2 separate regions of the Homo sapiens genome follow, and region 1 is linked to region 2. The links come from fine-mapping of genetic effects on gene expression. A gene starts in region 2. The other region holds a variant in brackets. All regions are shown on one strand. Distances are from middle to middle. Region 1 overlaps PLEKHA6 (pleckstrin homology domain containing A6). Region 2 holds the start of PLEKHA6 (pleckstrin homology domain containing A6).

What was found.
Region 1: its variant is fine-mapped to the expression of PLEKHA6 in whole blood (TOPMed, PIP above 0.99).

Annotation. Positions count from the first base shown.
Region 1 is chr1:204,284,726-204,289,109 of GRCh38, reverse strand. All of the region lies in intron 1 of PLEKHA6 (pleckstrin homology domain containing A6), which reads left to right. Among named protein-coding and RNA genes, the nearest start is that of GOLT1A, 73 kb to the right of the region's middle. The variant A/G (reference allele first, on the strand shown) is at 2,176.
Region 2 is chr1:204,357,576-204,361,959 of GRCh38, reverse strand. It overlaps PLEKHA6 (pleckstrin homology domain containing A6), which reads left to right and starts at 2,031. Exons shown (of 23, transcript NM_014935.5): 1 at 2,031-2,266. RefSeq lists enhancers at 2,143-2,778, 2,894-3,820, 3,821-4,384.

The DNA.
Region 1 (4,384 bases), 73 kb after region 2:
TGGCAAGGACTTACTCTCACAAGCCCGGCGCTGCTCATTTGCACACATCTGCATAGATTTGCATGTGTCCTGCTTGTAGATACTTTTAGATTTCCCCCAAATCAGTTGCCTATTTTTAAAGGATAAAGAGGGAATTTATCTCTTCTTGTTCTTGCTCACCTTCCGTCTGTATCCTCCAAAGACACTAAAATAATTTCTGCAACTTTGAACTATAAACAATAACTGTGGTTGCATAGTTTATGCAGATATGAAGCAGTTCCTTGACTGACAATGTGTTTCTCCTCTTAATCTCTATTACAATTCCTAGTGCTGCTCTCCAAACTTCTGAGTGGCGCAGAGAGACATTAAGGTAAAAAAATAAAAATAAAAACAAACCCTCTAGCTGAACAGCCAGGCTCAAATTGCTTAGAAAGCTTCAAGAATTAGTTCACTCTACCTGGACAGAGCAGTTAGAGGCAGTTCCATGGATCTGAAGACCACCTTCCCACTGCTTCCCATCCCAGGGCTAGGGATGCTGTGACTATCTTTGTCTGCTCTCCTTCCTCCAGGAATAAATAACAATATCATCCCTCCCCCAGATCCCAGTTCCTCTATTGGCCCGCCAGGCAAATATTTCATAATGTGGGCTCATCCAATTGGGCATCGTGCCAGAGCCAAACGCCTCAGGTTGCAAGTGTGCTCCAATCAGGCGGGGCGGCCTGGGTGGGACTAGAGGGCTCTCCTTCTCCACATGGGAGGCGGCAGCATTACTCAGGTGGATGGCATCAAGGTGGGAGTTGCTACTTTCTCAGGGCAGAGTAGAAGGGACAGGGCTGTCCATCAGCCAGCTCCGGCTGGCTGAGGCAACCCAGCACTGAAGGGGTTAAGGCCAGCCAGCATGTGTGGCTGTTAATGATTGCTACCCACCAGGGACCTGGTGAGTATTAAAGGAAAACCTTCTCCCTACTCCTCAGTGTGAAAGGAGTCAGGGCTAGAGGCAGCAGAGGGAACAGCAAAGAAGAGCCGGTGAGTAAGTGGTTATCTGTCTGGTCTATGTTTGTCTGGGTGGCTCTGGAACAGAAAAGGAAGCCTAGATATACCCATTCTATCAGCCAGAGTGGGCTTTTGTTACAACCAGATACAAATTCTCAGCTTGAGGCCAGATTCCAGTATCATTACTATTTATTAGAAGGAAATCTTTAAAATTATCTTAGTCCAAGGGAGTGAACTGCTCAGCGCAGAAGCCAGAGATACAAACCATTGTCTGTCCTGATGTCAAGACAATGGTTTTGTGTGGCCACCCTGAGCACAAAGCTGGAGCTGCTAGTCTTCCTCCTTCTCTCTGAGCCATTGTCTCCAGAGAGGCGCTCGGTAGCTCTGGTCAGAAGCAGCGTCGGCCTCTCTTGTGGGCCGATTTCCTGGATGGGGCCACGGGAGGAAGGTGGAGGGGACAGAGCCACAGGAGACTGGCATGGCTGTGCTCCTGGTTTTATCCTTTTACTTAGCAGAGTCAGGTGTGGTGAGATGTAGGGTAAGACAGAACCTGGCGGGGGTGGGTGCAGAGAGTTGCGGGGAGAACTCTTCACTCATTAAGAAGACAAGGTTGTCAGTTGAGAACAAAACTGAAATCCAGGGAGAAAGAGAACCAACCTTTTGCATTTAGATTTCTGTTGCCCCCATTCCCTCAACTTCCCCTTCAGGTCCCTCATCCCTTCAACCTCCAAAACATTTGTGCTCTTTGACCCTGGCACCTTCTAATGACAGTTTTGTGGAGGGGGTGTGGACAAGAATTCCTTGGCTTGGAGGAGGAGGTGGACGCACTGGCTTTTCTCAGCTGATGCTATCTCTCTGTGTGTGTACTCATGAATGCCCACGTGATTTAAAAAAAAAAAAAAAGAGGGAGACTGTCACCAAAAAGGAAGTGCTTACTTTACTCTCCTCCCGCCCCCAGCTAGGAGCCCTTTTGTTCCCTTGCCTCTTTCTTGGGAGGAAAGAGATTCGATGACATAGTGATGCTAGGTTGAACCTAGGGAGGAACTCGGGGCTCTGGAGAGCCTATTAGGTGGGAACAGGGTGCTCCCTGTGCCAGTTTAGAAAGCAGATTCGAGCGATAAGGTAAACCCAACCCCCTTGTGGCTTTCAGCTGTGGTGCTTCCTCTGGCTGGGCTGCCCATGGGCAAACAGAAACCAGGCACA[A/G]TAGGGGGAAGGTGCCAGCCACTAGACCCAGCAGGGCGAGAGCAGAAGCAGCCAAGTTTCTGGGCATTTGAGGCCAAGAAAGAAGGGGAAGTAGAGTATAGGAGAGGAACGGGGATACTTGTTGTGTTCTGCCTCATATTGAGAGTCAGCCACAAATGTGACTAGCCAACCTCCATCCCTACACTCCCAGGAGAAGTATACTGGGATTGTTATTTCCAGGCAGGGCAGGGGGGCTTCATGGGGGATGCAAACTGTGCAGTTGCCCCACATGCTTGGTTTAATGCTCTGCTATTGCTGTCTTGAAATCCTTAAGTTTTGCACAAGGGGCCCGCAAATTGTGCAGCTGGTCTTATTTCCTGGCCCAGCCAGAAGTTGCAGGTGCAGAATAGTTGCTCATATACTCCAACAGGTGTAGGCAGGCTCACCTGTTACTCAGGTGTCACTTATGGAGGCCGGCTTCTGTCCCGGCTGGCACCTGTGCTGCATCCCTTTCCCTTTCCTCCTCTCTGTTCCCCTCCCAGAGTACTCTATTCCTCCTTGTCACAGCCTCCATGCCCAGTCTTTCTTCACGGCTGCTGCGTGGCAGGACAGGGGTGGGAACAGCAGTGTCCCTTGTCTGACTGCCTCCCTGCCTTCCTTCTCAGGCCCTCTCTTTTCCTTATCTGGGCTATAGCCAGCAGGTTCTCTAGGCTAGGTCTAGGCCTAGGAGCACCTCTTCCGTTCCTCTGAGATTGTCTTCCCTCCCCTCTGTAAGCCCCGGTTATCAGTGGATGCTCTCTGGCACCTGCTTCTTGTGATGTCTGCTTAGCAACAGGTTGTTTACCTGTGATTTCCATAGGATCCAGGTCTGGATGAGTGCTGGGTGGGGAAGGGGAGGTGCAGGGAAGGAAGAATCCTAAGCCTGCTGTCCTTGGTGGTACTTCCTCTACCCTGTCCTCCTCCATGCCAGCTTCTCCTGCTCTGGACCAAATGGCCCCACAGAAGACCTCCCTTTCCTCCTCCTCCCCCAAGCGTCAGCTAGAGGTTGGCCAATCCAGGAAGGAAAAGGAAAGCAGGAGGGAGGAACAGGTCCTCTGTGTCTCCAGCCTCCTCCCCAACTCTTCTTCCTTCTCCAACTCTTCTCTCCCAGCCTCCTTAAGCTGCTGGATGACCTTTTCCAGTGTTTCCTACCAGGCCAGTGCTGTTAGTAATGATACTTTCAAACTGTGCAGAGGAGTCTTAATGCATGTGATTTAAAAATAATGAGCCTGGCCAACACGGCGAGACCGTGTCTCTACTAAAAATACAACAAATTAGCCAAGCGTGGTGGCCCGTGCCTGACGTTCCAGCTACTGGGGAGGCTGAGGTGGGAGAATTGCTTGAGCTCAGGGAGCGGAGCCTGCGGTGAGCCAAAATCGCACTACTGAACTCCAGCCTGGGATACAGAACAAGAACGTGTCTCAAAAAAAACAAAAACAAAAACAACCAAAAAAAAACCAACAACAACAACAAAAACAACAAAAAACCCAAAAAAACGAAAACAATGGATTGTCCAGATTAATTCTGAGTGAACTTTGGAGTATATCATTTCTGATTTTTAACTTTTTGTTGTTGACAGCAGATTTTCCTTTCTTTTTAGCTTAGTTTAGGTCTATGAGGGAACTTGTATTTACTGAAGACACTGAGCTCATCAGCTGGTGGAAGGATACACTGGCTTAGAATTGCATTTCATAGAATTCAAAACTATTAGAACTGGAAGGTGGCTTAGAGAACATCTAGCCTAGTGCTGTCCAATAGAATGTTCTACAATGATGGAATGTCCTGTGACTATTCTGTCCCGTATGGTAACCACTAGCTACTGTGGCTCTTGAGACACAGTGAAATGTGGCTAGTGTAACTAGGAACTGAAATTTTAATTTTATTTAATTTTAATTATTCAAGATAGAATACGGCTAGTGGCTATCAACTTGGTGCAAATTTAGGATAGTGCTATTTATTGTATTCCCTTATTTTATTAATGATTATAACATTAGCCACTACTAAACAACTCAATGTGCCAGGCATTCTTCTAGAGGTTTTAAATATTTAGTCCTCCCAGCAACTCCAGTATCGTTACATGTTGCAGGTGGGGAAACTGAGACCCAGAAAGGGACAGTGACTCAGTAGTGGTCAGTTACCAAGACTCCTGACTCTGAGACCACCGGCCTTACCCTTTTCCTTAAGGACAATC
Region 2 (4,384 bases):
AGGCCCATCTGTTGGTCGCCTGCCTTTTCCAGCTGCCTGAGGATTGTGGGGGCTTGGGCTGGGGTCTCTGTCCCCCTCCCCGGCCTCCCTCTGGGATGCTGTAATCTCTTGCCTCCACTCCTTTCCTCCACTGGCTCCGCAGGGTCAGAGACCCCCAAGAGCCCCTCATCTTGGCTGACTGAAAGCAGACTCTCCCCCTGCCTGCACCTGGCAGCCTTGCCAAGTCCTGGAGAGCCAGGGCAGGTGAGTTGGGCTTGATCGGTCCTGCCTGGCACTGGGCCCTCATCCACAACTTGTCTGCCCCTTCAGCAGAGCAGCTTTCCTATAGCCAATGCAGGGCTGGCCTGACATCTCAGCTGGGCAGGGGAACAGTGGGAGGTGACCAAGAGTCCCCCTCCCCAAGAGTGCTGCTGAGCTGCGCCTGCTGCCCTAACCCCAGATTCCTGGCTCCAGCCTGGCCTGCCCTGGGGTGGGAAAGACAGTCCCTTCAGTAGCTCTCTAGGTCCCTGTCTTCCTCCAATGCTGTGGTGTGTGTGAGTGGGGTGTGGAGCCACAGCCTTCACACCAACCAGCCAGGTTCCTCCCAGGCCCTGGGAGGGAAGTCTGTGCTCCTGTTCCTTCCGTTGCACATTCCTTTACAGATAAGGGCTTCAGTTGGTAAAAATGATATATGTACTCAGATCACACTAAGAGAGACCCACTTGTATTGGAGTCAAGAGGCTTAATTTTTTGATCAAGTTGTTCTAATAATAAACAAAAAATGCAATCACCAGGTGAGTGGGGCCTTGCAGACACCCTTTCTCTAGCTCCTGCTTCTTGACATATTTCTCTATTCAGAAGTGACTCCAGAAGCTCATCTGGTTCAGTCCCCAGTTTCCAGGTTTAAGGGGCAGATGGGACTGAGACCAGCGAGCCTGCCTGGAGGTTGAGGTGGGAATCTTTTGGTTTTTTCCATCTTTCTGATCCTGTTTATGAAATCAGTGTTTTTATTACACTTGCCCATTGTCACAGAGAATCCGTGGATAGAGGAAAACTGAGAGAGATGTGGATAAAGGGAAACTGAGGCAGAAAGCAATCTTTGTCTAAGCAGAAACAGAGCTACGACCCTATTGTCTGAAGTCCTTCCTTCTGCCTCTGATCCTGAATAATACAGAACCCAGGTACCCCGTAGCTTGGCTAGCATCCTTGCTCAGGGTTATCAAGACCGATTTGGGCAGGAGCTAGAGAAAGGGTTTCTGCAAGGCCCCACTCACCTGATAATTGCATTTTTTGTTTATTATTAGAACAACTTGATTAAAAAATTAAGCCTCTCGACTCCAATACAAGTGGGTCTGTCTTAGTGTGATCTGAGTACCTATATCATTTTTACCAACTGAAGCCCTTATCTGTAAAGGAATGTGCAACGGAAGGAACAGGAGCACAGACTTCCCTCCCAGGGCCTGGGAGGAGCCTGGCTGGTTGGTGTGGGGGCAGTGGCTCCACAACCCACTCACACCCCACTCATCCTGGCATCTCATAGTGGCCCCCAACCCTCTCCAAATGTTATTTCTCTAAATTCACCATATTGGGGGGGGGGCGGGGGATGGGGAGGCCCCAGGGCCCCAGCCAAGCCCTCTTGACACCTAGAGACGTGCCCCTCTCTGGAGTAGACAGCCACAGAGGTGAAAGGTGATCACCAGGCTGGCTGGGTGAGGCCCCACACATGATTCTAAGACCCTGGGCAGTTTCTGGCTCCCTGCAGTCTCTTGTGGGGGACTCTAAAAATGCAGCTTACCCAGACGGTGGCCCTGCTCCCCTTTGGGGGGCAGCCTTCTCCTGGTGGTGGAAGGCCCAGGAGGCTGTGCTGAGCCACCCCATCCTCTCCCGGGCAGGCAGGCTGCGTGGATGGTTAGCAGCTTGTCGCTGGTGTGGATGGAGTTAAACCTTTTCGGGGACTATTTACTCCTGATCCTAAGTGACAGCTTGGGGAGGGAGAGTCACGTGGCCCTGAAATCCCCGGGGGAGCCGATGGAGCATGCCCAGCTGCCTCTGCCTGGGAAAGATGCTGGATCCTGCAGTAACCACAACAGCATCCTCTCCCTGCGCCAGGGACCTGCCAGCCGGAGAGATGACTGATTAGATCAGATTAGATCCGGAGCCCCGCTCTGCAGAAGGGGGCCCCAGGGGCGGGGGAGGAGGACCCCAGCTGGCCTGAGCTGGGGGGAGGGGTGCCTTGGGGCTCGCAGAGTTAGAGCTTTCCAGCGCGGGGATCACACCTCAGAAGCCGGTGAGTCTGTTTTCATGCATCACATAGATGAGGTGGGAGGAGGAAGGCTGGGCTCTGGTCAGGGCTGGCAGCTGCCTGTCTGCCGCGTGAGCCTGGGCTGCTTGCACTGCGGAGCACTGGCTTCCCCATCTCTCATCCTTGGCAGCCTTACTTGGGGATCATGGATGCTGAGAATGCTAATTATAGCCCTCCCTGTGCCCCCACCCCCACCTCCAGAGTCCCCTGTCAGGGCTGATGCTGTTTAAATTGATTACATTTGAATTGCATCTCCTGGATGAAGGCAGCGTTGGGGCTGGCAGCTTCCTAGGGTCCAGCAGGGGTCCCCCACGCAAGCTAGCACAGAGAGGCCAGCCCACCCTCCCTTTAATCTTGCCAGCAGGAAGGAGAGAGGGAGGGGGTCCAGGGTCAGGCTCAGGTCAGCCCCAGGGACTCACCTTCCTCAGCGTGGGGAGGGGTCAGGGTGTGTATCATTCTTATGAGTCAGAGGTTGGGTCGAAGGGTGACAGAGGCTCTTGGATTCCAATTCCTAGGACGCATCTGAGCTCTGGGGGTCTCAGATTTAGTGGGGAGCTCTTGAAGGAGCTGGAGCCTGGTATGTGGTAGAGGAGGGCAGGGAATGAGGGGATGGCATTTATAATGATGGGACCAGGCTGCAGCCAGCTAAGAGCCTCGAGGTATTGTGTGAGGAGTCTGAGGAAAGGAGGACAGTTGGGGGACTGGCCAGAGAAGGGTAAGGAGGGCTACAGTGGAAGGGGAGGGAAGCGGGGCGAGACAGGAAAGTGGCGGGGGTGGGGGAGAAGGGAGAAGAAGGGAGAAGAGGCTCCTGGGAAATGCTCTTTGAGACAACAGGCCAGCCAGGGCAGGGAAGGGGGCTGTGGAGCCTGGGAGAGCAGAGATGGAGAACCGGGATAGAGGGAGAGCCATCCCCGGGGCACAGGGGTGGGGAGGGAGAGCTGCAGGAGGGTGGAAGGTGGTGGGGAGGAGGCTGGAGCTCAGAGCTGGTGTCAGAGGAGGTTGCAGCCTTCAGGGATTGGAGGCTCTTCCCAAAGCCCTGTAGACCCTTTACCCTCAATCTGATCACTTGAGTGGTGCACTCTGCTGAGGGTCTCCTGCATGGTGGGGCAGGGTCCTGGCTGGCAGGTATCTGCCTGAGCCCACTGTCTGGGCAGGTGCGGGGGCACTGCGGGCACTTGCCCTACAAATCTCCCAAATCCTGTTTTCCAGGCCACCCTGGAAGAGTATGAAACTGAGGAGGGCTCCTGTGGCTAGGACGGTTCAGTCGCCAGCTTTCACCCCCGAGCAGCTGCATTTTAGCTTCAGCAGGACATGAGCAGACCCTGCTGGTGGAGGGGAGGTGGGAGCGGCTAGGCTCTGGCCTGTCTCCAGGTTGGGGTGGCAGGAGGGGCTGAAGGCACCCCTCCTGGCACTGCCACTGGGCTTTCCTTATGGAAACAAGCGAGTTTCTGTGTCTTTGCACAAGGGCACAGAGTGCCGAGCCACAGATATGAATTATTAAAAGTCATTGGTTTTCCAATCAGCGGCGAGGTGATAAATGTGTTAGCACTGGTGTGTAATTAATCCTGGCAGGCTGCTGCACACAGGCTGCAGACAATGGGGGTCCCCACCTGCTTTTTTTTTGCTGGGCTAGGCTTCTTTTCCTCCTTCCTAGGAAGGTGATGGTGCAGGACGCCTTACACAGATAATTACTTTGAATGTGTCTGCCTGGATTATTGAGTTGGATTATTTCTGCTTGTAAATGAAATAATTACTGATCCCTCAGTCAGTGAGGGAGGCAGCCACCTTGGCTCCCGGGCTGACATCAGAGCCCCCACCTCGCCCAGACCCAGCCTGCAGCCTCGGGCTCATAGAGCGAGCTCTCTTGGCCCAGGGGACTGGCCTAGGCCAGAGTGAAGAAGCCGCAACAGCAGATGGGAGCGTGGTGTCAACTGGTGCTGAACAGGCTGCGGTTCCGTTCTCCGAGCCAATTTCCTCATCGTCTTCCTCACTGCCTGTTGTGAATTTGATGAGGTCATTGGCACTGGTCTTGGCGCACCCATGGGGCCCCCCAGAGGAAGGTTGGAGCTGTGCCTCACAAAAGAGCTGCAGGATTCGCACTCC